Linked DNA regions of Homo sapiens: region 2 is linked to region 1. Evidence: fine-mapped expression QTL. A gene starts in region 1. The other region holds a variant in brackets. All regions are shown on one strand. Distances are from middle to middle. Region 1 holds the start of TMBIM1 (transmembrane BAX inhibitor motif containing 1). Region 2 holds the start of CATIP (ciliogenesis associated TTC17 interacting protein).

What was found.
Region 2: its variant is fine-mapped to the expression of TMBIM1 in whole blood (TOPMed, PIP above 0.99).

What each region holds. Positions count from the first base shown.
Region 1 is chr2:218,288,175-218,304,350 of GRCh38, forward strand. TMBIM1 (transmembrane BAX inhibitor motif containing 1) reads right to left here and starts at 4,329. Exons shown (of 12, transcript NM_022152.6): 1 at 4,292-4,329. All of the region lies in intron 2 of PNKD (PNKD metallo-beta-lactamase domain containing), which reads left to right. RefSeq lists enhancers at 1,478-1,977, 2,897-3,861, 3,862-4,824, 5,007-5,853 and a silencer at 4,107-4,586.
Region 2 is chr2:218,356,067-218,372,242 of GRCh38, forward strand. CATIP (ciliogenesis associated TTC17 interacting protein) reads left to right here and starts at 791. Exons shown (of 10, transcript NM_198559.2): 1 at 791-843; 2 at 1,029-1,121; 3 at 1,468-1,668; 4 at 1,971-2,026; 5 at 4,507-4,593; 6 at 6,669-6,836; 7 at 8,562-8,686; 8 at 10,958-11,034; 9 at 11,364-11,452; 10 at 11,656-12,028. The coding sequence starts at 819. The coding sequence ends at 11,898. It overlaps CATIP-AS1 (CATIP antisense RNA 1), which reads right to left and starts at 11,836. Exons shown (of 3, transcript NR_110573.1): 1 at 11,525-11,836; 2 at 10,861-10,961; 3 at 10,599-10,732. CATIP-AS2 (CATIP antisense RNA 2) reads right to left here and starts at 1,900. Exons shown (of 4, transcript NR_125777.1): 1 at 1,848-1,900. RefSeq lists an enhancer at 686-1,197 and a silencer at 11,818-12,127. The variant G/C (reference allele first, on the strand shown) is at 7,862.

The DNA.
Region 1 (16,176 bases):
TCCCAGCACTTTGGGAGGCCAAGGCGGGCGGATCACGAGGTCAGGAGATCGAGACCATCCTGGCTAACATGGTGAAACCCCATCTCTACTAAAAAATACAAAAAATTAGCTGGATGTGGTGGCGGACGCCTGTAGTCCCAGCTACTCGGGAGGCTGAGGCAGAAGAATGGCATGAACCCGGGAGGCGGAGCTTGCAGTGAGTCAAAATGGCGCCACTGCACTCCAGCCTGGGCAACAGAGGGAGACTCTGTCTCAAAAAATAAATAAATAAAATAACTAGGGAAGGAAGGGAACCACTTAGAGTAGTTGAACCACTTCCAGTACTTACTATATAACTAAGGAAGTACAGGTTGAATATCCCTCATTTCCAAAATCCAAAATGCTCCACAATCTAAAACATTTTGAGCACCAAGATGACACTCAAAGGAATGCTCACTGGAGCATTTCTGATTTCGGATTTTCAGATTAGGGACGCTCAACCAGTAAGTATAATATACATAGCCCCAAATCCGAAAAAATCCAAAATCCATGTGCTTCTGCCACTGTAGATGTCTGCCCCCATGGCTATCGTGACTATATGCTCGAGTAGGAGAGTAAAGTGTTTTCTTGGGGGTGGAAGGGAGTTGGGGTGGGTAAAAGAAAAGGGAGGGAAGGAAATTGTCAAAATGGTCCCATTTTGGATAAGAGACACTCAACCTATAGTAACTAAGGCACATCTGATCCTTGCAACAGTGCTGTGAGGTATTCTTACCCTCATCCCACTCTATAGATGAGATAACTGAAATTCAGAAAAAAAGAGATCTAGGGTCCCACAGCAGGCAAACAGCAGAGATGAGTTTAAGCATAGATCTCACACCTGATTTAAAATTCAGCCTCTTTGCTTTTATATCAGGCAGGAGTAGAAGCCCCTGAGGCATCTGTAGCACGCACCTGCGTGAATAGGCAGCACCAGGGTGGGGCCAAGGCAGTAAAGATCAAAACGATAGATAGAAAGGAGCTGAGCAAGCTGTTGTTGCTACCATTATTTCTTTCCCCTGCGGAAAGTTGATCTGAAGCCTGGGTCCTGGGCTAGGAGGTGGGGACCTGAAGTTCTTGTCCTGGCTTTGGGACTCACTCCACTGTGAGAGCCACATCTCTAGACCCAGTTTTAACATCAGTAAGACAATTCCCCTCAAATGAAAGAATGGCCAGGCGCGGTGGCTCATGCCTGTAATCCCAGCACTTTGGGAGGCCGAGCCAGGCGGATCACTTGAGGTCAGGTGTTCGAGACCAGCCTGGCCAACATGGTGAAACCTCGTCTCTACTAAAAATACAAAAATTAGCCGGGCATGGTGGCACATGCCTATAATCCCAGCTTCTCGGGAGGCTGAGGCAGGAGAATCACTTGAACCCAGGAGATGTAGGTTGCAGTGAGCCGAGACCATGCCACTGCACTCCAGCCTGGGCGACAGAAAAAAAAAAAAAAAAAAAAACTGAAAGATCAAAGTCCACTCTGCCAGTTTCTGATTCTGAATGAACAGCCTAACAGGAGGCTTCAGGGCAGAATGGCATGGCTCCCCAAGAACCTACACCAGGGGGTCACTACTGATGTGCAACTGTTTCCAAGGACATCTTCAGAGGCAGAAGTACATGGCATGTTCTCAGTATGGGGCTGTCCACACCCTCCCAAACTGTCCCCATAATGCTGTCTGGACCCTACGGCCAGCTCTTCCTGGGTGATCAGTTACGCCCGAGCTAAACAGTATATAACACTCTAGGAAAGAAAGAGTAGGAGGCAGGAAGTCCACTGACCTGGGTTCATGAACTAGCTGCAGGAATCCAGGCAAATGACCTCCCCTGGCCTCCTTTTATCCCTAAATCAGCCCACGTGGGGGAAAGGAGTAGGGACTTGTTTATGGGAGCCACAGTGGAGAAACAGAATCACCTAGCCAGGCATTTCCCAGACTGTTCTAAAGAACACGCCCCAGGAGACGTTAATGAATGAGTGCTGGAAACAGATGACTCTTGAGAAACAATCCACACCCCCTTCTTGGAAATTCACAATGGCATATTCTGCCCCTGAGAAGTCCTGCAGTAAGCAACCCTGTTCAGCTTTGTTTAACCCAGTGTTCCTTCAAACTCCCTTAAGCCTGAGCCACTTTTATCGAGGCAAACCTATTAACACCCTGTGGGATGCTGACCCAGGCCACCTTTGTATTACAGACACCCAACCCTGAGAATCATTCATATCCTAACTCCTCGTCTCTTATAACCTCTGTGCGTACACCCAGCTGCCCCTCAGAGCAGTCACATGAAGTACTAGACATGCCCTCTCACTCTCAGGGGGTCAGCCCAGTGCCAGGATCTCTGGCGAGGGTCCTCCCCTTCCCCCATTCCACACAGCTGCTATCCCACCGTGGGATTTACTGCCAAGGGCCGGGGGACATATCCAGCTACCACAGAACCAGGAAACGGGCACCCCTAACCTCACCTCTGTGCAACGGGGCAAAGCACAAATCATTACAGACAAAAGTGGGAGCTCATTAATATCTCCCTTCCCACCAATGGAGGTACCTGCCACTGTAGCCTGTCGACTTCTGGATATCATTTCTACTTCAAAACAAGACCCAGGTTTTGGCCTAGAATCCCAGAATCTTAGGGTTGGAAGATTCTGTCAAGGTCATCCCTTCCACTGTGTCCCCAACAGAATAGGTCCAGAAGGCCCATGTCATGATCAGACATGTTGTTAGCAGAACTTCTTCCCAGAGAATTGTATGAGCTTCCACTCTCTGGTCGTCCCAGTTCAGCCCTCTGAAAACACACAAGTATGTGTGTTTCCCTTCTCTGTGGCTTCTGCTTTTTCTGAAAGGCCCAGGGTGAGGCCTGCGGTTGGAGGTGCTCTGAGGTAGACAGCGTCTGGCTGAGGCACCCATTCCCAGGGGAGGAGGCTGAGCCCAGGTGGCTATTACCCCAGCTCATGACATGAGGCTCTCCCAACACTTACAGGATAACCCATCATTACCTCTCTGAAGGGCTCATTTTTACAAGTGAGGCCTTGAGGTCATAGCACAGAAAGACAGGGCCCCTGACACTGTGGTCCTGCCTCTTCCATTTAAGCTATAAACTGGTTCTCTGGATCCTCATGACTGGAGAGACAGAGAGAGGAGGCAGGTGAGAAGGAAGTATGGCTCCCCCTTTGCGCCAATAAAGCAGCCCCAGGAGGCACCTGGCTCCCCTGCCACCACTGGCCAGCCCAAAGTCGCCAGCTTGGAAACCAAAGCTCACTAATGAGATGAATATTTCAGAGCCCAGAGAACTGGACACCTGAGGGCCCTTCCATGACATCTGGCTCTGACCTGCGTTCCCAGGCCTACTTATCCCATGTCCAGGGTGCTCAGGTAGAACCCCAAACTCCTGGGTACCACGTAGAGGCCACAGAGGAGGGAGAGGAGATGGAGACCCCATAGGACAAGAATTGGTGCCGACCCCACAAGGCCAGGGCCTGGCCTCCCAGCAGCCTCCCTCTGCTTCCTCCCACTGGTCCCTGGCTCCTGCCCCAGTCTCTCCACTTGCTTTCCCTTTTCCCGTTTCTCTGTTTTGTTTTCACTCTAACCCAAAGAAGTCACGAGGAGGATGTTACTCCCCTGTAGTTCTGTGAACCCAGCCGGGAAACAGTGGCTGGAAGTGGGACTGGCAGAGGGCAAAGTCATGGTGATAGAGGTGGCCACTTCCCCATGCCAAACACTTGAGCTGCTCATTGGCTTCTGCCCCAGCTGCAAGCTAGGACCCCCCCTTCCCCACCCCTTAAATATTCACCTGTCTACACCGAGACTGGCCTCAGCGCGTGTGGGGGCAACCTGGGGTCCGTGCCAGGCCCTGGCTGTCTCCCCTCCCTCTTCCCTCTTCTCACCAGCTGAGGGCCATGAAAGCCCTCATCCCACACAGCTGGCCACTCGGGCTGGCATGGTGGATAGGCCCTGCGACAGAGAGGCCACTCGTGCCCGAAAGAGGGAACACGAGGACACCCCCAGACCCTGGCTCCGCTCACCAGTGCCCACAACACGCTGCTGGGCTCCCAAGGCTAACCAGGTGCCACAGACCCGGCCGCCCACCCGCGCGCCCAGGGAGAGCGAAACGCCAAGGGCCAGGAGGGGAGATCCCCATCTGGAACGGGCTCCTTGGGCCCAGGAGCGGGCAAGCCGGGAGCGCGCTCCGAAAAGTTTAGGCGCCCCGGCGCATGGCCGCCCCAGCCCTGGACCAGTCCCCACCGCCCACAGTCCCCAACGGCGCCGGCCCCGGCCCCCTGGCTTGCCTGCGCCGTTCCAGACGGAGCGTTCCTGGCCTCGGAGTGTTGCAAGTCCTCCGGGGCCGGGCAGGGCTAGGCTCGGCTGGGGCTCCGCGCCCCGCCCCGTCGCGCCGGCCTCGTGGGGCGGGGCCTCAGGGCGCCGCCAGGGGGCGCAGGGGTCTGTCCCGGGCGCGCGCGCCTCTCAGAGCCCCGACGACGCCTCACTAATAACACAGGGGTATTTTCGGATTTAAAGGCAATACATGATACTGATAGGAAGCTAGAAAAGACACAGAAATGCAGGGAAGAAAGTAATTTCTCTCCACCCCTCCTAGTTCCCAGGGGGAAGCGTTCGCTTTGGGTCCTTCTTTGGCTATTACATTTCTGTATGTATTTTGTTTTTCTACAGTGGGGTATATTGTATGGTGTTTTGTTTACTGCCCTTCTTTTTACTGTTTTATGATGAACATTTTTCTTCTCACTAAATAGTCTTCAAAAGCACAATCTTAATGCCGTGAAGTATTCCATTGCATGGCTATGCGGATTAAATTAATTTCCTACTGGAGGCCGTTTGTTTCCCATTTTTACATTACAAATAAATCAGTAATTAAAATCCTTGATAATTCTGTGTTTTTGAGATAAATGCACTTTTCGAGTTTAAAACTGCAAACATGCAAACCTAGAATCTCTGTTTATAATTACTCAACCAGGAAAGCAGGTGCTTTCCTCAAGTCAGAATTCAGAAGTCCTACATTGAGATGTAGATTACTACTGTTAGGTAGGTCTTAACCCTCATCTCAGTGAAGAATGCAGTAGCAAAGGAGGAAACAGTTTTGAGGAAGTTCTGAAATATTACTGGAGCCTGGGCATGGTGACTCACACCTGCGATCCTAGCACTTTTGGGAGGCCAAGGCCAGAGGATGGCTTGAGCCCAGGAGTTGGAGACCCAGCCTAGGCAACATAGAGAGACCTTGTCTCAATTTAAAAAGAGAAACATTACCGAGCCTTGCCTGAGTTTCTGTGGTTCCAAAGTCCAAGTTCTTTCCATGACACCAAGGCTGCCAGTAGTTGACCAACTCTGTTTAAAGTGCTTATCTCATGTTAATAGCTATAGGTCAGCACCACACCACCACTGAATGTCCTTTTTTTTTTTTTTTTTTTTTTCCAGACAGGGTCTCGCTCTGTCACCCAGGCTGGAGTGCAGTGGCGCCATCTCGGCTCACTGCATCCTCCTCCTGGTTTCAAGTGATTCTCCGGCCTCAGCCTCCTGAGTAGCTGGGATTACAAGTGTGTGCCACTACACCCAGCTAATTTTGTTTGTTTGCTTGTTTGTTTTGTTTGGTTTGTTTGTTTTGTAGAGATGGGTTTTCACGTTGTTGCATAGGCTGGTCTCAAACCCCTGAGCTCAAAGCAGTCAGCCCACTTTGGCCTCCCAAAGTGCTAGGATTACAGACATGAGCCACCACGTCCAGCCCCAAAACAGAGATTTAAAAAAAAAAAAAAAAAAAAAAGACAGATTTTTAAAAACTGCCCCCCATACACACACTATGTATGTTTATTTCTGTAAATATAGTTTAAGTAGGAGTTACTTAGGGGGACTAGTGGCCGTTATGGTGGGCTAGCTCCCCAGACACCCCAACCCTTCAGTGTACTTCCAGTTCCTACAGGCCAAGAACCTCATTTTAGGAAGTCCCCACCCAAGGTGTGATCTCACCAGAGCAAGTACAGTTCTGCTCAGTGTCTGTCTCCCCCTTGCTCAAGGAGTAGCGCCCTAGGTGAAATGCATGGCCCATGGAATCTGTCCAGATCCCTGACATTTTTTCATGCTCTCTACACTTGTGCTGTCTTAGTCCATCTGGGCTGCTACAACAAAAATACCTTAGAGTGGGTAATTTAGAAACAGCAGAAATGTATTGCTCACAGTTCTGGAGGGTGGGAAACGCAACATCAAGGCACCAGCAGGTTAGGTGTCTGATGAAGGCTCCCTCTGCTTCACAGATATCGTCTGAGTCCTCATATGGCCAAGGAAGGAACAAACAGACACCGCCCCCCCACCAGCCTTCCTTTTTTTTGAGATGGAATCTCACTCTGTGCAATGGCACAATTGCAGCTCACTGCAGCCTTGACCTCCCATGTACAAGCAATCCTTCCAACTCAGCCTCCTGAGTAGCTGGGACTACACACATGCACCACCACACCTGGCTAATTTTTGTATTTTTTGTAGAGACAGGGTCTCACTATGTTGCCCACGCTGGTCTTGAACTCCTGGGCTCAAGCAATTTGCCCTCCTCCACCTCCCAAAGTGCTGGGATTATAGGCGTGAGCCACTGCACCTGGCCACCAGCTTCTTTTCTAAGAGCATGAATTCCATTCCAGAGGGTTCCGCCTTCATGACCTAATCACTTCCTAAAGGCCTCACCTTTTAATACTATAACATTGAGGATTAAGTTTCAACAAATGAATGGAGTGGGGACAACAACATTCCCACCATAGCAGGCCCCTTCTCCAGAAAACACCCTCCACTTTCTAGAACCACCAGGATGGTTAATATCCAAGGAGATTCCATTTCCAACCAGCAATCACCAGCGACTCACATCTGCCCGACTGGGGGAGTGGGACATGGGGCACACGAGGCAAGCCCACACAAGCCTTGCTGCGTGCTTTTTCTCCAGAGCCCTTTTTCTGACTATAGGGTCAAAAATAACACCTGAAGCGCCTGGCCCAGAGCAGCAGTGCTTCGCTGGCAATAGGCATTCGATAAATGATGTTTTTTTCTCTTGGGCCTTATCTGCAAAATTATTAAGTAAGCTTTTATTGTCTGCCAACCAGACAGGAATTTCCGGTTCTAGAAATGAGAAGGCTGAAAGAACACAGCCCCTGCTCTCAAGAAACTCACAGTCTAAGGGAGCCAGTAAAATGACAGATTATTACAATGTTGACAGTTTGACAAGTGCTGGCAGATAAAGAAATATTCACTTGGTTCCTCCAGATCCCAGAGAAAGCTCCTAACCCAGTGTGGGGAATGGGGTGGGGGTTCGGGAAAGGAGTTCAGAGGAGGTGACACCTGAGTAGAGTGTTAGGAGGTGTTAGGAACCAGCCTATTCGGAGGAGGGGAGAAGGTTCTCCAGGCAGAGGGCAAGGGACTTAGGGCCAGTTGCCCCAGCAAGCTAGGATGGGGGGTGGAGGGTGCAGTGGGGTAGAAGGGGTAGGAAATAGGGCTGGCCAAGGAGGCAGGGGGCCAGAAATTGAGATTTTACCCTGAAAGCAATGGGGAGCCAGAAAATAACCACCTAGAGGGAGTTTGGGAGGGTTGGGGAGGCTCTGGTGGTGCCCCTGGGGTAGGGTTCCAGCTTTAGCAAATAAAGATGCAAGGCAACCAGTTTGAGCTTCAGATAAACAACAAACCTTTTTTTTTTTTTTTTTCAAGACAAGGTCTGGCTCTGCACTCCCAGGCTGGAGTACAGTAGTGCGATCTTGGCTCGCGGCAACCTCCACCTCCCAGGCTCAAGCCATCCTCCCACCTCAGCCTCTCAAGTAGCTGGGACTACAGACATGAGCACCACCACGCCCGGCTAATTTTTGTATTTTCTGTGGAGACAGGGTTTTGCCATGTTGCCCAGGCTGGTCTTGAACTCATGAGCTCAAGCAATCCATCCGCCTCACCCTCCCAAAGTGCTGGGACTACAGGCATGAGCCGCTGCGCCCGGCCAAACAATATTTTTTCATATAAGCATATCCCACTGCCCCATATAATATTTGGAAATACTTGTACTAAAAAAAAGTACTCATTGCTTATCTGAAATTCACATTTAACTGGTTGGTTGTATTTTTCCAGCAACACTACCTAGGAGGAAAGTGGAGTCAAGTCCATGGCTGCAGGAAGAGGGGTGGAGGAGTGAAAGGGATTAGACTGATGTTTATTTTAGGACTGGATGTTATTTTAGGTATTTTAGGACTAGCTAAAGCTTAGTGATTGGTGGGAGGGGGTGGTGGCAGCCTGGAAGGGGTGGGCCCAGGTGGAACCTGAAGGACATGGGCAGGAAAAACTTAATTGGAGCGGTGGATCCAGAGAACTTTCTCTGTTGCCACCCTCCAGCCCAGCCCCAGGACTCCACTAATTGGTCCTCCAAACCCTTCTCATAGCTGCCTGGTTACCTAGCATTTAATGTGTTACTCTACCCATGCATTGATCACTAACTTTCTGAAAGAAGTTGCCTTTTTTCTGTTTTTCTTTTTCTTTCTTTCTTTCTTTCTTTTTGAGATGGAGTCTCACTCTGTCACCACGGCTGGGGTGCAGTAGCATGATCTCGGCTCCCTGCAACCTCCGCCTCCTGGGTTCAAGCGATTCTCCTGCTTGGCCTCCTGAGTAGCTGAGATTACAGGCGCCCACCACAATGCCCAGCTAATTTTTGTATTTTTAGTAGAAACAGGGTTTTGCCACGTTGGCCAGGCTGGTCTTGAACTCCTGGCCTCAGGTCATCCACCTGCCTTGGCCTCCCAAAGTGCTGGGATTACAGGCAAGAGCTACCGCGCCGCCCGAAGTTGCTTGTTTTCAGAGGACGTATTTACTGAATTGAGGCATTGAACCCAGCCTGAGGTGAAAGTGCCTGTTTCTCCCCACTGGAGGGCAGAGACAATGTCTCATTCACCCCTAGGCCTGGGCACGGCCCTGACCCAGCATCTGTTGAATTGAATGCCAATGTTCCAAAGTGGGATGGAGGGAGCCTCTCAGGCTTGAATGATAGATGTGTGGGGGATAGATAAGGTAGGGGTGGGGTATGGGGGCTCCTCCCCCTTAAAATTGGCCTTATTATTCATAAACATTATTTAACACTTTCCTAAGGAAATAGAGAGTGGAAAGAATGGTGGATTTGGATGTCTCAGAAGTGAAGTTTTGTTCCAGCTTTGGCACTAAAGGACTGTGAGGCCGGGGGCCCATCTCTCTACTTAGAAATCACACTGTGGCTGGTCACAGTGGTTCATGCCTGTAATCCCAGCACTGTGGGAGGTCAGGGGGTGGATCACCTGAGGTCAGGAGTTAGAGACCGGCCTGGCTAACATATAGTGAAACCCCATCTCTACTAAAAATACAAACAATTAGCCAAGTGTGGTGGCGCATGCCTGTAGTCCCAGCTACACCGGAGGCTGAGGCAGGAGAATCGCTTGAACCTGGGAGACAGAGGTTGCAGTGAGCCGAGATCATGCCACTGCTCTCCAGCCTGGGCAACAGAAAAAGACTCCGTCTCAAAAAAAAAAAAAAAAAAAAAAAGAGAGAAGAAAAGAAATCACAGTGGCTCACGCTTGTAATCCCAGCACTTTGAGAGGCCGAGGCGGGCAGATCACAAGGTCAGGAGATCGAGACCATCCTGGCTAACATAGTGAAACCCCGTCTCTACTAAAAATAGAAAAATTAGCTGGACGTGATGGCAGGCGCCTGTGGTCCCAGCTACTCAGGAGGCTGAGGCAGGAGAATGGCATGAACCCGGGAGGCGGAGCTTGCAGTGAGCCGAGATCACGCCACTGCACTCCAGCCTGGGCAACAGAGGGAGACTCCATCTCAAAAAAAAAAAAAAAGAGAGAGAGAAATCATACTGCATTTCTCTACCTCCTGTGACTTCTGGCGCCTTCCTCAGTTGAGGTCATCTAGGTGAAAGGCAGTGAGAAAGGCACATGGCGGATGTTGATGGTGACTGAAACTGCTGTAACTGGAAGTGGGTGGCACCATGAGGAAGCCAGGCCACGGAACCAGCCTGGCATCCACCATGCTGCAGGCAGGGCCAGCGAAATGCTTTCCATTCTTCCCTGACCCTCAGAGTCACCTGAGCTGCTTGTGAAAACATGCACGTTCCCTTGGGGATACTTCTTTCCAGACCTGTGAATCAGAATCTTCAGTGGAAGCATAAACAAACGCTCCCCAGGTGAATCGCCAGCCACACCAGCAAGCTTTGGTGATAGACAGTCCTGGGTTTGAATCCAAGTTCAAATGTCTTTGGTGGCTTTGTGACCTTAGGCATATTACTTAACTGCTGTGAGCCTTGGCACCTTATCTATAAAAAGGGTGGTAATAATATAGGGTAGTTGTAAGAATGAAAAATAGCAGTTGTCAAATGCTTGGGGCAGAGTTAAAATGTTCATTGTTATTGTTGTTTGTGAGATAGAAGCCCAGTGATTCTCCCAGTGATGAACACAACCTCCTTTCACACTAAGCAGGGCCTGGAGGGATGAACTTGCCCGAGCTGGGAGCTCAGCAGGGCCAGGCTCCAGCTGTGCCCTTACACCCTGCCCTCTCGCCATGGACCTCTGCCACCTCTGCCAGCCAGAATACCGGGGGATTCTCAGCTTTCAAGCCCCTCTCCTCGTCCATCTTGGGCTTCATTCTCCCACTCTCTTGCCCCCCACCTAGGAAGCTCCTCCTCATAGATACTTGCTTTTGTCTAAACAACTCTACTCCCCAAGAAAAGCCAACAGCGATTTCCTCTTATTCCCAACCCACGATATTAGCTGCCTGAGAACCTCTCCTTACCAATAACTGCACCCCCTCCATAATCTCAATTTCAGGCACCCCACACTCTGACCACCATCTATTTTTCCAGCTCTGTGACCGTGATTTGACAATTCTGTGACCATATCAGGATCAACAATCTATTCATCTTACCACCTGTTCCTTTATTTTATTTATTTATTTTATTTTATTTTATTTATTTATTTTGAGACTGAGTTTCGCTTTTGTCACCCAGCCTAGAGTGCAATGGCAGTGCAATGGCGCGATCTTGGCTCACTGCAACCTCCGCGTCCGAGGTTTAAACGATTCTCCTGCCTCAGTCTCCTGAGTAGCTAGGATTACAGGCACCCGCCACCAGGCCCAGCTAATTTTTGTATTTTTAGTAGAGATGAGGTTTCACCACGTTGGCCAGGCTGGTCTCGAACTCCTGACCTCAGGTGATCCACCTGCCTCAGCCTCCCAGAGTGCTGGGATTACAGGCGTGAGCCACCGCACCCGACCTATTTGTTTATTCATTTATTTTTGAGACAGGGTTTCGCTCTCACCCAGGCTGGAGTGCAGCGAAGCAGTCATGGCTCTCTGCAGCCTCAGCCCCCTGGGCTCAAGCCATCCTCCCACCTCAGCCTCCCAAGTAGCTGGGACCACAGGCACACACCACTGCACCTGGCTAATTTTTGTAATTTTTTTTTTTTTTTGAGACAGAGTTTTGCTCTTGTTGCCCAGTCTGGAGTGCAATGGTGCCATGATCTCAGCTCACTACAACCTCCACCTCCCAGTTTCAAGTGATTCTCCTGCCTCAGCCTCCCAAGTAGCTGGGATTACAGGCACGTACCACCACGCCAGGCTAATTTTGTATTTTTAGTAGAGATGGGGTTTCTCCATGTTGGTCAGGCTGGTCTCGAACTCCTGACCTCAGGTGATCCGCCCGCCTCAGCCTCCCAAAGTGCTGGGATTACAGGCGTGAGCCACCGCGCCCGGCTAATTTTTGTAATTTTTTGTAAAGATGGGGTCTCCATATGTTGCCTAGGCTGGTCTCAAACTCCTGGGCTCAAGTGATCCACCTGCCTCAGCCTCCCAATGTGCTGGGATTACTGGAGTGAGCCACCGCGCCTGACCACCACCTCTTTCTTATCTCTCACATCCTCACTTTCCTCCTTGACCAGCTTGGATTCCAATATTATAATTACTCCTTTGCATGCAGCCTCAACTCTACCTTATGGTTCTCAGCAGCAAAATCTCAACTCTGCACCCACATAGCCAAAAGTGAGGGTAAAAACATGCAACGGTCCTGACTGATCTCGCTTTAAGTTCATGCACACTAACTTGTCCATTCATACTAACACACCCATCCTAGGCAATTACTCCACACTTTCTACAGTCCCTTCTGAACTCCCACACCTCCTCTGCAGCCTCACTCTCAGCCTCGACTTTGCTTCCTATGTCTCTGAGCAAGCAATCAGAGAATTGCTGCCTATATCACCACTTGGATGTCTAATAGGTGACTGCTTCTCAAACTTTAATGTGCAAATAGATCGCTTGGGGTTCATGTTAAAATGCAGATTCTGCTTCAGTAGGTTGAGAGTCTACATTTTTTTCTTTTCTTTTCTTTTCTTTTTTTTTTTTGAGATGGAGTCTCGCTCTGTTGCCCAGGCTGGAGTGCAGTGGTGCGATCTCAGCTCACTGCAACCTCCGTCTCCTGGGTTCAAGAGATTCTCCTGCCTCAGCCTCCCAGGTAGCTGGGATTACAGGCATGCCCCACCACGCCCAGCCAATTTTGTATTTTTAGTAGAGATGTGTTTTCACCATGTTGGTCAGGCTGGTCTCGAACTCCTGACCTCAAGTGATCCACCCACCTCTGCCTCCCAAAGTGCTGGGATTACAGGCATGCACCACCACGCCTGGCCATAGGTGAATTTTTAATGGGATTTTTAAATACTAAGTCTTCAAAATCTGGTATGTATTTGACACAGCATATCTCAATTAGGATGTTACTTTTTCATCAGAAATATAGGATCTGTATTTAGATCAAATCTGAAAAGTGTTTGTAAAATGTACATACTTGAGTGTTTTCCAATAACTGAAATAAGCATCAAGGTTTATTTTATTATTGTTTTATTTTTAGAGTAAAATGAAAGCAAGTTTATTAAGAAAGTAGAGGAATAAAGAATGGCTACTCCATAGACAGAGCAGCCAATGTTTAGATTTAAGTTTAAATGAATTAAAATTACATAAAATTAAAAATTCAGTTTTATAGTTGCACTAACCACATTTTATGTGCTCAGTGGCAAGTGGCTAGTGGCTACCATATGAAACAGCACAGATCTATAGCGCTGGTCATTGACTTAAGGGGGAATTCTGGGGGTCAGGGTCTAGATCGTAATTCATCTTGGCCAGATGCCTAGCCCAGGGCCTGCACTCAGTACTTTCTGCTGCGTTCCATTTACTTTTAACAAGTCAAAAACTGACATCTAGGAAGCGGTTGGAACAAGCCACAATCAGTTCCCAGACATGACCACTAGGGGGCAGAGTCTGACTAGCACTGTTTGGCTAGAAAAAGGGAGCCTTGGCCGACGCAATGGCTCACACCTGTAATTCTGCATTTTAGCCAGGCCCAGGCAGAAGCATGGCTTGAGCCCAGGAGTTCGAAACCAGCCTGTGCAACATAGTGAGACCCATCTCTTTAAAAAAATTAAAACATTAGCTGGGCATGGTTGTGCGTGCCTGTAGTCCCAGCTACTTGGAAGGATGAGGTGGGAGGTTGGCTTGACCCCAGGAGGGTCAGGGCTGCAGTGAGCTGTGATTATGCCACTCCAGCCTGGGCAACAGCCTGAGCTACCATCTGTCTCAAACAAACAAACAAAAACGGGAGAAAAGAAAGGGGCCAGGACTCAACCCCAATACCATTAAGATTTATTTAACAAGCATTTATGAGGGGCCAACTGTGTGCCAGACCTGTGGGGATACAGAAGTAAATAAAATACAGCCCCCGCTTTCTTGGAGTTTACAGTCCAGTAGGGAAGGCAGGACAGATATTAGCAACTCATCTCATAAGCAAAGGTATCTTTACAAACTGTAATACATGCACTTAAGGAAAGCTGACTCAGTGCCCTAAAAGAGTGGCACCCAAGGCAGGGAGCTGTGGCTCACGCCTGTAATCCCAGCACTTTGGGAGGCCGAGGCAGGCAGATCACCAGGTCAGGAGATCGAGACCATCCTGGCTAACACGGTGAAACCTGTCTCTACTAAAAATACAAAAAATTAGCCAGGCATGGTGGTGCGCACATGTAGTCCCAGCTACTCGGGAGGCTGAGGCAGGAGAATCACTTGAACCCAGGAGGCAGAGGTTGCAGTGAGCTGAGATAGCGCCACTGCACTCCAGCCTGAGCAACAGAGTGAGACTGCATCTCAAAAAACAAAAACAAAAGAGTGGCACCCAGGCACCTCTTATGTTGGCAGAAGGTGGCATGAAAGAGTAGCTACAGAGGGGATGGGCCGTGGGGGGTGGTGGACAATGGTGCTGTGACCCTTCTAAGCAGAAGGATCAAGCTATGTGAAGGTGTGGAGACACCCCTGAAGCTGAAAGAGCTTGGCATGTTCCAGAAACTTCCAGGAGAGTGGTGTGGCTGGAGAGTGGTGGGCACTGGGGCATGGCCCAAGAGGAGACTGGGGAGGTGGCAGGGGCCAGGTCTACAGAGTCTCAGGGCCTCTTTAAGGACTTCAAATTTCAGCCTAAAGATATCAATGAAAACATTCAAACTCTGTAAAATATTTGAAGAAATTTATTCTGAACCAAATATGAGCGACTATGGCCCTTGACACAGCCCTCAGGAGACCCTGAGAACACGTGGCCCAAGGTAGTCAGGGCGGGGGGACAGGGGCGCAGAATGTATGTGTGTGTTGAAGGGAGCTTCCAGGTTATAGGTAGATTTAAAAATTTTCTGATTGGCAATTGATTAAAAGAGTTACCTAAAGGCCTGGAGGTTTTTTTTCTGTTTGTTCGTTTGTTTGTTTGTTTGTTTTATGGAGTCTCACTCTGTTCCCCAGGCTGGAGTGCAGTTGTGCCATCTTAGCTCACTGCAACTTCTGCCTGCCAGGTTCAAGTGATTCTTCTGCCTCAGCCTCCCAAGTAGCTGGGATTACAGGTGCCCACCACCATGCCCAGCTAATTTGTTTGTATTTTTAGTAGAGACAGGTTTTCACCATGTTGGCCAGGATGGTCTTGAACTCCTGGCCTCAGTGATCTGCCCACCTTGGCCTCCCAAAAGTGTAATCCTTGGGATTACAGGTGTGAGCCACCAGCCCAGCCCTGAACCAGTCTTTCAGGTTAACTTTGGAATGCCCTGGCAGAGGAGGGAGTCCATTCAGATGGCTGAGGTGAGGGGGCATTGAATTTTATTTTTGGTTTACAAAGGAAGCCATTGAGTGATTTTGAGCAGGGCTGGGACATGGGACATGATCTGGGTGGTATTTTAGGAGAATCACCCTGGCTCTGAGCGGTGAATGGGTTGAGGGAATGGAGCCCGAGAGCAGGAAGGCCTTGAGGAGCCACCTTGGCTACAAGATGAAAGGTGGTGGCACCAGCCCCCACCCTGAGGTGTCAATACCCCACGACCCCCATCCCAGACCTGCACTTCTTTTTTTTTTTTTTTTTTTTTGAGCAGAGTCTTGCTCTGTTGCCCAGGCTGGAATGCAGTGGCATGATCTCGGCTCACTGCAACCTCTGCCTCCTGGGTTCAAGCGATTCTCTGCCTCAGCCTCCTGAGTAGCTGGGATTACAGGTGCCCACCACCATGCCCAGCTAATTTTTGTATTTTTAGTAGAGATGGGGTTTCACCATCTTGGCCAGGCTAGTCTTGAACTCCTGACCTCATGATCCACCTGCCTCAGCCTCCCAAAGTGCTGGGATTACAGGTGTGAGCCACCACGCCCGGCCAGACCCGCACTTCTTTGGTTTCATTTGGCTGGTTTCCGTTTGCTCTCCACATCCCCCTCCGTCTTCTCCACCCTGCTTGGAGCTGGTCCTATGGACACCTCAGTGGGCTCTTGGTCCTCCAGCTGCAGCTGAGTTTGGCAGTGGAGCTCTCCAGGAGGAGATGGCAGCAGAGGTGGAGGGTTTGTCTCCTTCTCCCTCCCTCAAGGCTCACCCCAGACTGGCTTATCCCTCAACCAGTGGTCACAGCCCCTATCAGTTGGGCCTGTCCACACAGCTCTGTCTTTGTTTTTTGTTTTTGAGACAGAGTTTCGCTCTTGTTGCCCAGGCTGGAGTGCAGTGGCGTGGTCTCAGCTCACTGCAACCTCCCAGTTCAAGCGATTCTCCTGCCTCAGCCTCCCAAGTAGCTGGGATTACAGATGCCTGCCACCATGCCTGATTTTTTGTATTTTTAGTAGAGACAGGGTTTCACCATGTTGA
Region 2 (16,176 bases), 68 kb after region 1:
TGTAACTTGCAGAGATATTCATGTAGCAGCTAATTGGATAGTGTGCATTTGAGACTCTGTCTGACTTTCGTTCATATCTTCTAAGGTCATTTTTTTTTTTTTGAGACAGATTACAGGCATGTGCCACCACTCCCTGGTAATTTTTGTATTTTTAGTAGAGATGGGTTTCACCATGTTGGCCAGGCTGGATCTCAAACTCCTGGCCTCAAGTGATCCACCTGCCTGGGACTCCCAAAGTGCTGGGATTACAGGTGTGAGCCACCACACCTGGCCTCTTCTAAGGTCATTCTAATGACCCATTTCTTCACTCTGCCTCTTAAGAATATCAAATGTGGGCCAGGCGCGGTGGCTCACACCTGTAATCCCAGCACTCTGGGAGGCTGAGGCAGGAGGATCACGAGCTCAGGAATTCAAGACCAGCCTGGCCAATATGGTGAAACCCCATCTCTACTAAAAATACAAAAATTAGCTGGGCGCGGTGGTGTGCGCCTGTAGTCCCAGCTACTCGGGAGGCTGAGACCTCAAGAAGAATTGCTTGAACCCGGGAGGCAGAGGTTGCAGTGAGATGAGAATGCGCCACTGCACTCCAGCCTGGGTGACAGAGCGAGATTGCGTCTCAAAAAAGAAAAAAATATATATCAAATGCTCCCTCTGCTGGACAACACCTCAAGCTTGTGCTGAGCCCCAAACCTGCAGTGTCAGTTCCCTCCAAGGTCTGGGTGTAGTAAAGTGGGTTGATGGCCCTTTAAGAGGCACTGTCCAGCTCTGGTTGCCATGGAGACAGCTGGACACAGACCGGGTAGAGGCAGGCCCACAGCATGTCCTCCAAGGTTTACTCCACAGGTGGGAAGAGGACTGCTGGGGCTGGAGGCGGGGATCCTCTTCTTTCTTCCCAATCCACCCTCGGGGTAGTCTTAGAGGATTCTGTTCTTGGGTGCTGGGGCCAGGACTGAGGTACCCTGCCTTGCCTCCCTGACCCCTGCCCTTCTCCCCAGGGTCTGCCATCTTAGCCTCTCATCCCTCTGTAGGCTCCAGAGCTAAGGACCACCAGCCCTCGGGTCCGGAGTGTCTGCCACTCCCAGAGGCCAATGCTGAAGCCATCGACTTCCTCAGCTCCCTCCGTGAGCTCAGACAGTGTCGGGGTTGGGGGTGCGGGAGGGGTGCAAGTCTGGAGAGGAGGGAAGAAAGTCCAGTCTCTCTCTCTCTCTCTCTCTCTCTCTCTCTTCCTTGATTCTCCTGGGACTCAGAAAAGGCCTGAGGCCTGTTTGTTGACATTCTTCAAGGGAAGGCCCCCCGGGGACATGGGGACATGGGGCAGGAGTCTTCACCTGTCCGTGCCAGTGAGGAAGGCTGTGGGATGAGGAGGCAGGTGGGGACTGTGGGGACACTGGTGGTCATGGGGTCAGAGGATTGGATTGGGGCCCAGGAGCAGGGGCTTTATCTGTTCCCACGGGCCCCTCACCCCAGACAAGGAGGAGCTACAGATGCTGTTCTTCTCTGAGACGCTGGCCATGGTCTCAGACACCGGGGAGCCTCAGGGAGAGCTGACCATTGAGGTGCAGAGAGGGAAATACCAGGAAAAACTCGGCATGCTGACATACTGCCTCTTCGTGCATGCCTCTAGCCGAGGCTTCTTGGACAAAATGCTCTGCGGAAATTCCCTCCTGGGTAGCGTTCCTACTGCCTGATGCCCGTCACTCTCCCCTTCCTCCAACCCTCCCCTCCACCAATTCCTAGAATCTTTTTTCAGGACCAAGCCCTTGGCTTTGCCTTGGACCAGGACAAGGCACGGGGTGGGAGAGGGATGAGCGAGTTCCTCATGGACTCGGGATGAGGGCACATCTTACCCATCCTGTAGTTTTTCTGGGACCGTATTACACCTAGTCCTCCAGCTGCGCCACCACCTTCCCTTCCTTCAGCCTCTGACCCACATCTCCTGTGACGTCAATGCCTGTGTCCCTGCACCCCAGGCTATCTCTCAGAGAAGCTGGAGCTCATGGAACAGCACAGCCAAGACTTCATCAAGGTACTTCCCAGGGCCCCAGCCTTGACCCAATCCAGGGGAGAGAAGACAGATTTTGACTTAAAAAACAGCAGCAACAACAAACCAAAAAACCTATTACATACACAGTGAAGCTGAAGAATAGCAATCGTGTTATGATGCAATGTAAAGCTCAAAAGCAACGCACTTCAGAAAACTGATTTTAAAACACGGGGGTGGGCTGGGCACAGTGGTTCACACCTGTAATCCCAGCACTTTGGGAGGCAGAGGTGGGCGGATCACCCTGAGGTCAGGAGTTCGAGACCAGCCTGGCCAACATAGCGAAACCTCATCTGTACAAAAATTAGCCAGGCATGGTGGTGCACGCCTGTAGTCCCAGCTACTCAGAAGGCTGAGGCAGGAGAATCGCTTGAACCCAGGAGGCAGAGATTGCCGTGAGCCGAGATCGCGCCACTGCACTCCAGCCTGGGTGACAGAGCAAGACTCCGTCTCAAGAAAAAAATTAAAAAACAATGAGGGTGGGCCAGGCACAATGGCTCAAGCCTATAATCCCAGCACTTTGGGAGGCCAAAGTGGGAGGATCCCTTGAGCCCAGGAGTTTGAGCCTGGGCAACATGGCAAAACCCACCAAAAATGTTTATAAATTTTGTACAAAAAATACAAAAAGTAGCTGGGTGTGGTAATGTGTGTCTGTAGTCCCAGCTACTTGGGAGGCTGAGGTGGAAGGTTCAGCGGAGCCCAGGAGGTCAAGACTGCAGTGAGCAATGTGCGTGCCACTGTACTCCAGCCTGGGTGACAGAATGAGACCCTGTCTCAAAAAAAAAAAAAAAAGAAAAAAGAAGAAAAAAGATGTAGGTTGGGCACGGTGGCTCACGCCTGTAATCCCAGCAATTTGGGAGGCTGAGGCAGGCGGATCACCTGAGGTCGGGAGTTGAAGACCAGCCTGACCAACATGGAGAAACCCTGTCTCTACTAAAAACACAAAATTAGCCGGGCGCAGTGGCTCACACCTGTAATCCCAACACTTTGGGATGCCGAGGCAGGTGGATCATGAGGTCAGGAGTTCAAGACCAGCCTGGCCAAGATGGTGAAACCCTACCTCTACTAAAAATACAAAAAGAAAATTATCCAGGCATGGTGGTGGGCACCTGTAATCCCAGCTACACGGGAGGCTGAGACAGGAGAATTGCTTGAACCCAGGAGGCGAAGGTCGCAGTAAGCCAGGATCACACCACTGCACTCCAGCCTGGGCAACAGAGCGAGACTCTGTCTCAAAAAAAAAAAAAAAAAAAAAAATGTTGGGGATGGTTTCTGGTTTCTGTGGGAAGGTTTTTAGACTTGAGTAGTTTCCAGTGTGTAAACAGGTCATGTTCACATTCCACAAGTTAATTAAGTGGCTGGGGCTGGGTGTGAGGGGCACAGAGCTGGGAGACTTGGAGGCCAGGTGAAACAGGCCCCCAGGGAAGGCTAGGCTCTGGGAAAGGCCAGCCCACCAGGCCTCCAGGGAGGCACTGGGCTCTCAGGCTGGAGGAGGGCTGGTGTGGGCTGGGTTCAGAGTTTGGGTATCAGGAGAACTTATCAGTGGCAACCTGCTGTCCCTGCACCTGGCCCACCCCCATCTTTTAAAACCAGTGTTCTGAAGTGCACTGTTTTTGAACTTTATATTGCATCATAACACGACTGCTATTCTTCAGCTTCACTGTGTATGAAAGGTGTTTTTTGGTTTTTGTTGCTGCTGCTTTTTTTTTTTTATTTTATTATTATTATTATTTTTGAGACAGAGTCTTGCTCTTATCACCCAGGCTGGAATGCAGTGGTGCAATCTAGCTCACTGCAACCTTCACCTTCCGGGTTCAAGCAATTCTCCTGTCTCAGCCTCCCAAGTAGCTGGGAATTACAGACATGCACCACCACACCTGGTTAATTTTTGTATCTTTAATAGAGATGGGGTTTTGCCATGTTGGCCAGGCTGGTCTTGAACTCCTGACCTCAAGTGATCTGCCCGCCTGGGCCTCCCAAAGTGCTGGGATTACAGGCATGAGCCACAACACCTGGCCCTGCTGCTTGGTTTTTTGTTTGTTTGTTTGTTTGTTTTTGAGATGGAGTCTCAAAAACAGCCTGTTGCCCAGGCTGGAGTGTAGTGGTGCGATCTCGGCTCACTGCAACCTCCGCCTCCGGGTTCAAGCAATTCTTCTGCCTCAGCCTCCCAAGTAGCTGAGACTACAGGCATGTGCCACCACACCCAGCTAATTTTTGTATTTTTAGTAGAGACGGGGTTTCACCGTGTTAGCCAGGGTGGTCTCAATCTCCTGACCTCGTGATCCGCCCACCTCGGCCTCCCACAGTGCTAGGATTACAGGCGTGAGCCACTGTGCCCGGCCCGGCTGCTTTTTTTTTAAGTCACAATCTTTAAACCTCAGTTTTCTCATTAATGGAGAAGGGTCAGGTGACCTCTGGGGGACCCAGGGAGTCCCTGATCCTCCCCCGCATGCTCTGGCCCTCAGTTCCTCATCCTCCCCATGGAACGGAAGATGAGTTTGCTGAAGCAGGATGATCAGCTGGCTGTGACCAGAAGTATCAAGGAGGGTGAGGTAAGGATGAGAGCCAGATGGGAGTTGCACTACACACTGTGAACCCAGAATATCTGAGACAGGTCCAGATCAATTTAGAGAGTTTATTTTGCCAAGGTTAAGGACGCGCACATGACACAGCCTCAGGAGGTCCTGAGGAAATGGGCCCAAAGTGGTTGGGGCACAGCTTGTTTTTTTTTTTTTTTTTTGAGACAGAGTTTCACATTTGTTGCAGAGGCTGGAGTGCAATGACGTGATCTCGGCTCACTGCAACCGCCACCTCCCGGGTTCAAGTGATTCTCCTGCCTCAGCCTCCCGAGTAGCTGGGATTATGGGCATGCACCACCACGCCCGGCTAATTCTGTATTTTTAGTAGAGAGGGAGTTTCATCCCTGTTGGCCAGGCTGGTCTCAAACTCCCGACCTCAGGTGATCCGCCCGCCTCAGCCTCCCAAAGTGCTGGGATTACAGGCGTGAGCCACCACGCCCAGCCTACAGCTTGGTTTTATACATTTTAAGGAGACACGAAACATCAATCAACACGTGTAAGATGTACACTGGTTCACCAGACGTAAAAATACAAAAAATTAGCCAGGCGTGGTGGCAGGCGCCTGTAGTCCCAGCTACTCGGGAGGGTGAGGCAGGAGAACGGCGTGAACCCGGGAAGTGGAGCTTGCACTAAGCTGAGATCACGCCACTGCACTCCAGCCTGGGCGACAGAGCAAGACTCCGTCTCAAAAAAAAAAAAAGATGTACATTGGTTCATTGGAAAAGGCAGGACAACTCGAGGCAGGGAGGGGGCTTCCAAGTCATAGGTAGATAAGAGACATGCTTTTAAGTTTCCGATTAGCCTTTCACTGAATACACAATTTACATGCTATGGGGGTTAGAAAAGTAGTCACTTATGCCTTACTCTGGCTTAGTGAAACAATAGAGCAGAGAAAGCCATCAGATATGCATTTATCTCACGTGAGCAGAGGGATGACTTTGAGTTCTGTCTGTCCTTTGTCCACAAGGAATTTCCTTGTGGGCAAATAGTGAGGGAGTTATATAGCTTTTTTTTCTCTTAGTAGCTACCTTGTTTAGGAATAAAATGGGAGGCAGCTTTGCCTGAGGCAGTTCCCAGCTTGACTTCCCTTTGGCTTAGTGATTTGGGGTCCCAAGATTTATTTTTCTTTCACAATGTCCTCTTCAGAACTCTGAGCGGGGACCAGATTAGATGAAGCCAGGAGTCCAGACTAACGATTCATTCATTAGGCTGGGCGCGGTGGCTCACGCCTGTAATCCCAGCTCTCAGAAGCAAGAGGCAGGAGGATAGCTTGAGCCTAGGAGTTCGAGACTTGCCTGGGCAATATAGCGAGACCCCGTTCTCCAGAAAAAGGAAAAAAAAAAAAGACAAGGATTCATTCATTAAAAACCATATGACCGGCTGAAGGCCAGGCGTGTGGTGACTCACGCCTGTAATTTCAGCACTTTGGGAGGCCAAGGCGGGCGGATCACTTGAGGTCAGGAGTGGAGACCAGCCTGGCCAATATGGTGAAATCCCCTCTAATAAAAATACAAAAATTAGCTGGGCGTAGTGTCGTGAGCCTGTAATCCCAGCTACTCAGGAGGCTGAGGCAGGAAAGTCGCTTGAACCTGGGAGCTGGAGGTTGCAGTGAGCTGAGATCGCACCACTGCACTCCAGTCTGGGCAACAGAGCAAGACCCTGTCTCAAAAAAAAAAAAAAAAAAGGCTCACGCCTGTAATCCCAACACTTTGGGAGGCAGAGGGGGCCTATCACCTCAGGTCAGGAGTTCAAGACTAGCCTGGCCAACATGGTGAAATCCGGTCTCTACTAAAATTACAAAATTTAGCCAGGCATGGTAGCCTGTAATCCCTGCTACTTGAAAGGCTGAGGCAGGAGATCGCTTGAACCAAGGAGGCGGAGGTTGCAGTGAGCTGAGACCACGCCATTGCACTCCAGCCTGGGTGACAAAAAGCGAAACTCTGTCTCAAAAAAAAACAAAACCGTATGCCCAACACCTGGCTTGCCCACCCTCCTGTCCCCTGCCCCTTCCTGGTTCCAGGACCCTGACCCAGATCAGTTCTGAACAGGAAGTGAAGACTGGAGTGACTTCTTTCCCCTGGAGCTCAATCAAGGGCTTCATCTCAGAGGCTGCCAACCTGGTGCTGCTCAGGGTGATGGCCTGGCGGCGGATGGTGCCCAGCAATGCCCGCTTCCTGACCTTGGACACCGAGGGCAAACTCTGCTATTTGACCTATGTAAGGGGTCCCCTTGGGCAGGGGACTTGGCTTGGGAGCGAACTAGAAAAGGCGTGAAAAGCACTGAGATGGGGAACAGCTGTGGAGTAGAAAAGGGAGGCAGGTGGGGAGAAAACAGCACAGGTGGGAATGGGGCTTTCAAGGGCAGGAAAGCATGTTTGTCTGGGAGTGTGGGGCAGATGAATTGAGAGTGACTGAGAAGTGGGAACAGTTCAGAGAAGCAACCCTTCCGCACAGAAGTCAGTCCAGGAAAAATAAATATAGTGCAGGGCTGATTTAAAAAATACATCATTTTGGGCCAGGTGTGGTGGCTCACGCCTGTAATCCCAGCACTTTGGGAGGCCAAGGCGGGCCGATCACAAGGTCAGGAGATCTAGACCATCCTGGCTAACATGGTGAAACCCCGCCTCTACTAAAAATACAAAAAAAAAAAATCAGCGGGGCGTGGTGGCAGGCGCCTGTAGTCCCAGCTACTCAGGACGCTGAGGCAGGAGAATGGCGTGAACCCGGGAGGCAGAGCTTGCAGTGAGCCGAGATCGCGCCACTGCACTCCCGCCTGGGTGACAGAGCGAGACTCTGTCTCAAAAAAAAAAAACAAAAAAAAAAAAACGTCATTTTGGCCAGGCGCAGTGATTCATGCCTGTAATCCCAGCACTTTGGGAGGCCAAGGTGGGCAGATCACTTGAAGTTAGGAGGTCAAGATCAGCCTGGCCAACATGGTGAAACCCTGTCTCTACTACAAATACAAAAATTATTAGCTGCGTGTGGTGGCAAGTGCCTGTAATCCCAGCTACTCGGGAGGCTGAGGCAGGAGAAGCATCACTTGAACCCAGGAGGCGGAGGTTGCAGTGAGCTGAGATCGCACAACTGCACTCCAGCCTGGGCAACAGAGGGAGACTCTGTCTCAAAAAAATAAATAAATAAAAATAAATCATTTTTTAACTTTAGGAAGTGTAACATGTCCAACTTTACTGAAATATTCCTTTATTATTTCTTAACCCCAAAGGGTGTTCCGTTTTTGTTTT[G/C]TTTTTTGTTTTTAACTAAAATTTCATAATCAGCATGCCTAGGACTTCCTGCAATCAGTGATTTTAAAGCCATGCCACTGAACACACAATTTCCAGTGAGACACTTTGGGGGCTGATTTGTGTTTCTTTGACCATCTTTGTAAATTACATTCCAGGCTTGTCTATCAAAACACACCAAGCAGCAATGCATTTGACATGAACAAGCACAATCCATTCCCCTCCGTGTTCTTTGAAACATGTGTTTAACATTAGCACTTTTTTCTCCATAGCTGCAGCTACAACAGGGGTTTAAGTTTTAATCACAACAGGGACAGCCTGCCAGCAACAGCACAGGTCTGAGGTGGCCACAAATCTGTCTGGTCTCACACCTCTGAGCCTCACTTTACCTCCACCCACTGGCCCTAGTAGCTCATCCTACCTCTCCGCTCCCACACCCCCCCGCATACCGCTTCTCATCCCTGTAACAGAATTTGCCAACTAGAAGCACCTGGTCAGCGAGATGACATGGGAGGGGTCAGGGCAAGGGCAACCTGGAGCTAGCTCCCTATGAGGGGTCGCCAACTCAGCTTGGAGGTTTGGAGATGCAATATTAAATGTCTTGAGGTTGTTATGAGATGGAGAAAAGGCTAAGGTAAGATGATGGGGAGCCCTTGGCGGGCATCCACCTTACCTCCCACCCCCCAATTTTGGCTGTTGCCAGCAAAACCTGGGCTTCCAGACCATCCAGGTAGACCATCAGCAGGCTGAAGTCTTCATCGTGGAGCAGACTGTCCACGCGGAGGAGGGCATCCCCATGTCCTGCCAGTACTACCTGCTCTCCGATGGGTGAGCTGCTGATGGTGGGCCCAGAGGGGTGGTGCTGAGCTTGTAGGTGCTCAAGGAGACCGGCTGCTTCTGGGGATAGCACCAGGAAGAACTGGCATTGAGATAGGAGTGTCCCTCCGCTTTATCCATATCATTCACTCTTTCTTCATTTATTTGCTCGTCCTCTTAACCCTCACAGTGCCTCCCAAACCTTCTCACTGCACACCACAGGCCTGGGGTGTAGCTAGTGCAGCCACCACTGTGTAAGGGATAATACTGAAAAACACCAAGGTCTGAATGACTGCACACTTGATGAAATCACTGTGCTGGAAGAATTGCCTGTGGCAGGCTGCCGTGCAGTCTCCAGCAAAGCACTGGCTCCAAATCATAAGAAAATTCAGGGCTGGGCGTGGTGGCTCACACCTGTAATCCCAGCACTTTGGGAGGCTGAGGCGGGCGGATCATGAGGTCAGGAAATTGAGACCATCCTGGCTGACACGGTGAAACCCCATCTCTACTAAAAATACAAAAAATTAGCCAAGTGTGGTCGTGGGCGCCTGTAGTCCCAGCTACTCTGGAGGCTGAGGCAGGAGGATGGCGTGAACCCAGGAGGCAGAGCTTGCAGTGAGCCGAGATCGCGCCACTGCACTCCAGCCTGGGTGACAGCAAGACTCCGTCTCAAAAAAAAAAAAGAAAGAAAAAGAAAATTCAGGTGGAAGAAAGAGTTTCTTTCTGTTTTTTTGTTTTGTTTTGTTTTTTTGAGACAGACTCCAGTCGAGTTTATTTCTTAAAATTTCAGAATAGATATTCACATAATCACTACACTGGGGAAAAGGTAATCAAAACATTGTTGGCTTTATCTCATAACTTAGTATGTTTTCGGTTTTGGTGCGATCATAGCCCACTGCAGCCTCCAACTCCTGGGCTCAAGCAATCCACCTGCTTCAGCCTTCCTAGTAGCTGGGACTACAGGTATGCACCACAGCTCCAGGCCAACCTTTTTATTTTGAATGCCGCATAGCAGGAGATTCCATAATTTTTCTTTTCTTTCTTTCTCCTTCCTTCCTTCCTCTTTCTCTCTTTCTCTCTCTCTGTCTCTTTCTTGACAGAGTCTCGCTCTGTCACCTAGACTGGAATGTGTGGCATAATCTTGGCTAACTGCAACCTCCGCCTCCCAGGTTCAAGTGATTCCCTTGCTTCAGCCTCCCAAGTAGCCGGGACTACAGGTGCCTGCCACCACGCCTGGCTAATTTTTGTATTTTTAGTAGAAACAGGCTTTCACCATGTTGGCCAGGCTGGTCTCAAACACCTGACCTGAAGTGATCTGCCCATCTTGGCCTCCTAAAGTGCTGGGATAACAGGCGTGAGCCACTACAAGTGTGAGCCACTGCGACAGGCCTCTTTCTCTTTTTGAGACAGTCTCGCTCTGTTACCCAGACTGGAGTACAGGGATGCAATCTTGGCTCACTACAACCTCCACCTCCCAGGTTCAAGTGATTCTCATGCCACAGCCACCAAAATAGCTGGGATTACAGGCGCCCACCACCACGTCTGGCTAGTTTTTTGTATTTTTAGTAGAGACGGCGTTTCACTATGTTGGCCAGGCTGGTCTCAAACTCCTGACCTCAAGTGATCCACCCATCTCAGCCTCCCAAAGTGCTAGGATTACAGGCGTGAGCCACCGTGCCTGGCCAAGAGGCTCCATGATTTTCGAGTGCTGTACCTCTAAAGATCCTTTTTGTTTTTTTTAAACAGGGGGCCTAATACTTGCCAAGCCCTGTGCGTTATTTGGAGATCCAGAAATGAACACCACCCAGGAACTTAATAAACAAGAGAGGGAGGCAGAAGTAAAGAGGCCCGGGACAGGTCTCTCAAGGGGCACTGTCATGTAGGAGTCTGCTTAGGCTGCCATAACAAAACACCACAGGCTGGGTGGCTTCAAGAGAAATATATTTGCTGGAAGGCAGGAAGTCCAAGATCATGGTGCCATCAGGGTTGGTTTCTGGTGAGGGCTGTCTTCCTAGCTTGCAGACAAGTGCCTTCTCAATGTGTCCTCACATGGCCTTTCTTCCGTGCATGAGTGAAGAGAAAGCTCTCTGGCATCACCCTTTTCTCATAAGGGCACTAATCCTATCTGATTCGGGCCCCACCCTTATGACTGCATGTAAACGTAATGACCTCCCCAAAGCCCCTACCTCCAAATACCACCACACTGGGGGTTAGAGAGACAATTCAGTCCATAGCAGGCGGTCTGGGAAGATTCTCACTCTCACATGTTGTGTTGCACTCCAGGCACCTGGCCAAGAGAATACAGGTGGGCTCCCCAGGGTGCTGCATCATCACCAAGATGCCCATCTTGAGGGAAGAGGGTGAGTGAAGCCCAGGCCTTGTGCAGGCAGGGAGAGTTAAGGGGAGTGGGGAAACCTGGGCCTTCCAGGATGCAGGGGGCTGGACCCAGTGTGCTGTAAACGGGACAGGAGCCTGGAATCAGCTGGAGAACATCTGCCCTCCAGCCCCTGACCCCAAGCAATAAGAGGAGGATCTTTCCTACTGGAAGTCCCTTCCTGCAACTCTGCCCATGTGGGCAGAATCCTGGGGTTTCACCTGAGCCTTCTGTTTGGGTGTTCTCGGGATCTCGCTGTGTATCCAAGGAAGGTTCCGGGGTAGGGACGCCCAGCCTTCCTTGTTCCCCACCTAGATGAGATTGAGCCACGCCCAGTGTTTGAGAAGAAGCCCCTGGTATGGGAGGAGGATATGGAGCTCTATTCGAAGTTCCTGGACCGGAAGGTGAGGGGAGGCTCCACCAGCCTGGGGTTCCCATTCCCCCATGGGCCTTAAATTCATTACTGATCTCTGCACCTGATTGAAATGCACACCCGTAGGGGCTAGAAGGCTCCAGCGCCCCTTAGCTCTCCTTGGAGCGAGCGGCTGGGGGCTCCTGGGGCGCGGGGGTCCCGTCCGGCTGAGGCTCGGGCTCTGTCCCCTGCCAGGAGGAGCTCCGGCTCGGCCACGCCAGCTATCTGCGGCAGCACCCCGAAGCCCACGCGCTCATCTCCGACTTCCTGCTCTTCCTGCTGCTGCGCCAGCCGGAGGACGTGGTCACCTTCGCCGCCGAGTTCTTCGGCCCCTTCGACCCGTGGCGTCCGTCGTCACCGGCCTTGGGCTCCTCCCACCGGCCCAACCCTTTCCGCTCCCTGGAGCCGGAGGGAGACGCCCGCTCGGGGGCGGCCTAAGCGGGGCCCAGGCCCGGACAGGGCAGGAAACCAGGGGTCGGGCTGGGACGCGGGCGGGACGCGCCGGGGCGGGTGCGCTTTCCGGGCTGCGGTTTTGGGGGAATAAATGGGGCCCTCCCGCTTCTCTGCAGCGCCCGTCGACAGCGTCCCTGGCTAGCGTCTAGTGTCTCGGGCTAGAAATAGGAACCGTTACCGTCGTACCTCGAGTAGATTTCAGCCTTTCCTCCTAGATGCTGTTTTCATCATTATCCCCATTCTACAGATAAGAACACAGAGGCACAGAAAGTTTAACTTTTGGAGTTGGCAGGTGGGGAGGCAGAATTTGAACCTCAACGTTGGACTTGAAAGCCCACACTCGGCCGGGCGCGGTGGCTTAAACCTGTATTGTCGGCACTTTGGGAGGCCGAGGCGGGCGGATCACCAGGTCAGGAGATCGAGACCAGCCTGGCCAACACGGTGAAACCCCATCTTTACTAAAAATACAAAAAATAGCCGGGCATGGTGGCGCGCGCCTGTAATCCCAGTTAGGAGGCTGAGGCAGGAGGATCGCTTGAACCCCGGAGGCGGAGGTTGCAGTGAGCCGAGATGGCGCCATTGCACTCCAGCCTGGGCGACAGAGCGAGACTCCGTCTCAAAAAAAAAAAAAAGAAAAGAAAAGAAAAAAAAGAAAAAGCCCACACTCTTACTAGGTTAGCACGGAGGGGCGGGCGCCTTGGCACTCAGATCTTACGGTCGCAGAGCATAATTGCCCAACCAACCGCCCAAAGAAAAATAACAAGCGGCGGGGGGTTGGGGAGGGAGGAGGGCCGACGTGGACCACCTCTGGCTTAGCTCAAACCCCCTGAAATCTCGCAAACGCAGCTAGCACTCAGGCTCGAGCTCCTCCCGGTTCCCACTGACACAGAGGGACCCCCAGACTCCGGAGGTGGGGGGTCCGAGAGTAAAAATAATGGGCAGATGATCGTCGCATCCTCTGGGCTCCTCGTGGAACGTCAGTGCTGGCCAGTGGCTTCTGTCCGGATGCTCAGTAGCAAACTTTAGGCAAGCTCCCCTGAGGGAGTGGTGGCGGTGCAGGCTCTCTCCTTCCCTTGTTCGTTCGTCAGACCTGCTGCTGCAGACTCCAGAGACGCTTTGCTCTCTAGTGGACGGTATGACCAGACACCTACAAGGCTGGGTTGGATGCGGGGCTGGGGGGAGGACCTGAGAATCACAGACAAAAGGCTTCATGGAGGACCATCACTTGAGTTGAACCTTGAAGGATTTTTTAAAAATATTTCTTATTGTCCCTCTCCCTTATTTCAAAAGAAATACATGTTCATAAGATAAAACTTGGGAAAGGGAGATAAACCAAAAGAAGAAAACGAAATCATTTTACTCTCTCTACCTAGAAGCAGCTGCTCAACGTTTTGGCAAATATCCTCTCTACTCTCCTATGCATAAAAGCAGCTGGTGTTTGTTGAGTGTTCACTCTGTCAAGCCCTTTTCTAGATTGTTTGATCTGGTCTTTATAACTCCAGGGAACTTTATTTATTTATTTTTGACTGGTTCTTGTTCTGTCACCCAGACTGAAGTACCATGGCACAATCACTGCTCACTGCAGCCTTGACTTCCTGAGCCCAAGCGATCCTTCCACCCCAGCCTGAGTGGCTGGGACTGCAGGCATGCACCACCACACTGGGCTAAATTTTTTTTTTCTTTTTTTAAGAGATGAGGGTCTCACTATGTTGCCCAGGCTGGTCTCAAACTCCTGGCCTCAACTGACCCTTCCACCTTGGTCCCCCAAAGTTCTGGGATCACAGGCATGTGCCACTGCATCCAGCCTCAATTTCCTTTTTCTTTTTTTTTTCAGAGACCAGTCTCCCTGTGTTGCCCAGGCTGCTTTTGAACTCCTGTGCTCAAGCAATCCACCTCCCTCAGCCTCCCAAAGTGCTGAGGTTACAGGCATGAGCCACTGCACACAGCCTCTATTTTTGCTATTATAAACAGTGTTGCACTGAACATCCTTGTAGCTAAATCTTTGCATATATCAACAAGTTATTTCCTTAAGGATACATTCTGACAAGTTACATTGCTGAACTAATTTTAAGACTTTTATTTTAGCATATTGCCAAATTCTACAGGGGTTGGATTTCTGTTAAGGTGAGGTAAAGCATTCCAGGCAAAGCAAATAACATGAGCAAAGGACAGAAGTAGGAAAGTGTAATGCATGTCTGTGGTCAAGAGCAGTGGTACCCAATAGAACTTTCTGCAGTGATGGAGAGTTGAGGGTGGGGACTTCAGGAAAGGCCTCTCTAGGGTCTCAGTTGAGCTGGGACCTAAATGATAAGGAGTCAGACTTGTGAAGAGTTGAGGGAAAAGCCTTCTAGGCAGAAGGAACAGCAAGTGCAAAGGCTGTGAGCATGGCATGTTGGGAACAGGCCATTGAGGCTGGAGCATGAAGGGGCAGGAGAAAAACACGCAGTAACTGCAAGATGGGCAGGGCAGGATCACAGAGGGTCGCCTAGGCTCTGGCAAGTTCTCTTCATCTGTGGGGAACCGAAACAGGCTGACCCAACCCCATGCACCCAGAACATTCCCAGAAAGATCGACAGAGCTCCCTTTAGTCCAGAAACCCTGCAGCGGTTGGAGGAGGCCAAGGCAGCAGCTTGCAACACACGCAGGTTCATCCTTCACTGAGCTCTTACATCAGGTGCCTGCAATAGGGAGGAGGAGTTGAGCCACTTCCCTGTCTCCTCTGTGATGTCTATTTCAAAACTGGTTTATTTTAAAATCTTAGTATTTGTTCCCAGAACTACTGTGACTCCGTCCTCTTGCTCCATAATACTGACGTACATTTCTCAGCCGGCAGCAGTGGCTCATGCCTGTAATTCCAACACTTTGGGAGGCCCACGCGGCAGATCACTTGAGTCTAGAATTTTGAGACCAGCCTGGATAACACAGCAAGACCCTGTCTCTACAAAAAATACAAGAAGTCAGCTGGGCATGGTGACACAAGGCTATAGTCTCAGCTACTCAGGAGGTTGAGGGGGGAGGATTGCTTGAGCCCAGGTGTTCAAGGCTACAGTGAGCTGTGATTGCACCACTGCACTCCAGCTTGGGTGACAAAGACAGACTCTGTCTCTAAAAAAAAGTTAAAAAAAAAAAACAGAGATGCATTTCTCAGCATAAAGAAAAAAACATGTTCAGCAATTCTGAAGTGCCAGGCACTGGATCTAGGGATGCTGTGGCCAGCAAACAGGCCAGGCGCCACTTGCATCGCCCACAGTCAGCCTAGAGAGGAAGTGACAGCCCCCAGTAATCCCATGGGGGGATATAAAAGTATAGGGCATGGGAAGGGCTAAGAAGGGAATGTAGACATGCAGTGAGAGTGCCTAATGCAGCCTTGTCCTAGTATGGGGCTCCAGGGAGGAGGAAGGAAATAAACAGTAATAACAGCCTGGACTCAGTGGCTCACACCTGTAATCCCAGCAATTTGGGGGCCGAGGCCGGATGATTACTTGAGGCCAGGAATAGGAGACTGGGCTATGTAGTGAGGCCTTGTCTCTACAACAAAACTGATTTATTTATTTAGAAGCGGAGCTGTGCGTTGTCACCCAGGCTGGAGTGCAGTGACACCATCTCCGCTCACTGCAACTTCCACTTCCCAGGTTCAAGCGATTCTCCTGCCTCAGCCTCCTGAGTAGCTGTGACTACAGGCGTGGGCCACCATACCCAGCTAATTTTTGTATTTTTAGTAGAGAAGGGATTTCACCATGTTGGCCAGGCTGGTCTCGAACTCCTGACCTCAAGTGATCCACCCACCTAGGTCTCCCAAAGTGCTGAGATTACAGGCATGAGCCACTGCGCCCCACCAAAAAAATTTTTTTAATTAGCCAGCCGTGGCGGCAGTTACCTGTAGTCCCAGCTGCTCAGGATGCTGAGGAGATAGGATACCTTGAGTCTTGAAGTCCAAGGGTACAGTAAGTTATGATCTTGTTACTGCACTCCAGCCTGGGCAACAGAGTGAGACTCTGTCTCTAAAACACAAAATAAAATAAAAATCTTTTTTAAAATAGTAACAATATTAAGAGGAAACCCATAATACATGTGATTCTCACAATATCCCTATGAGGTGGTTTCTATTGCTATTCACATATTACAGATGAGGAAGAGGTCAAGGCTCATGGCCACACACTGGTTAGTGTCAGAGCCAGAATTTGGACTCAGAGAGTCTGGCTCCAGAGCCCATGTGCCAATCCACTCTCCTAAACAGATCAAATGTAACTCTCTGGAGACAGA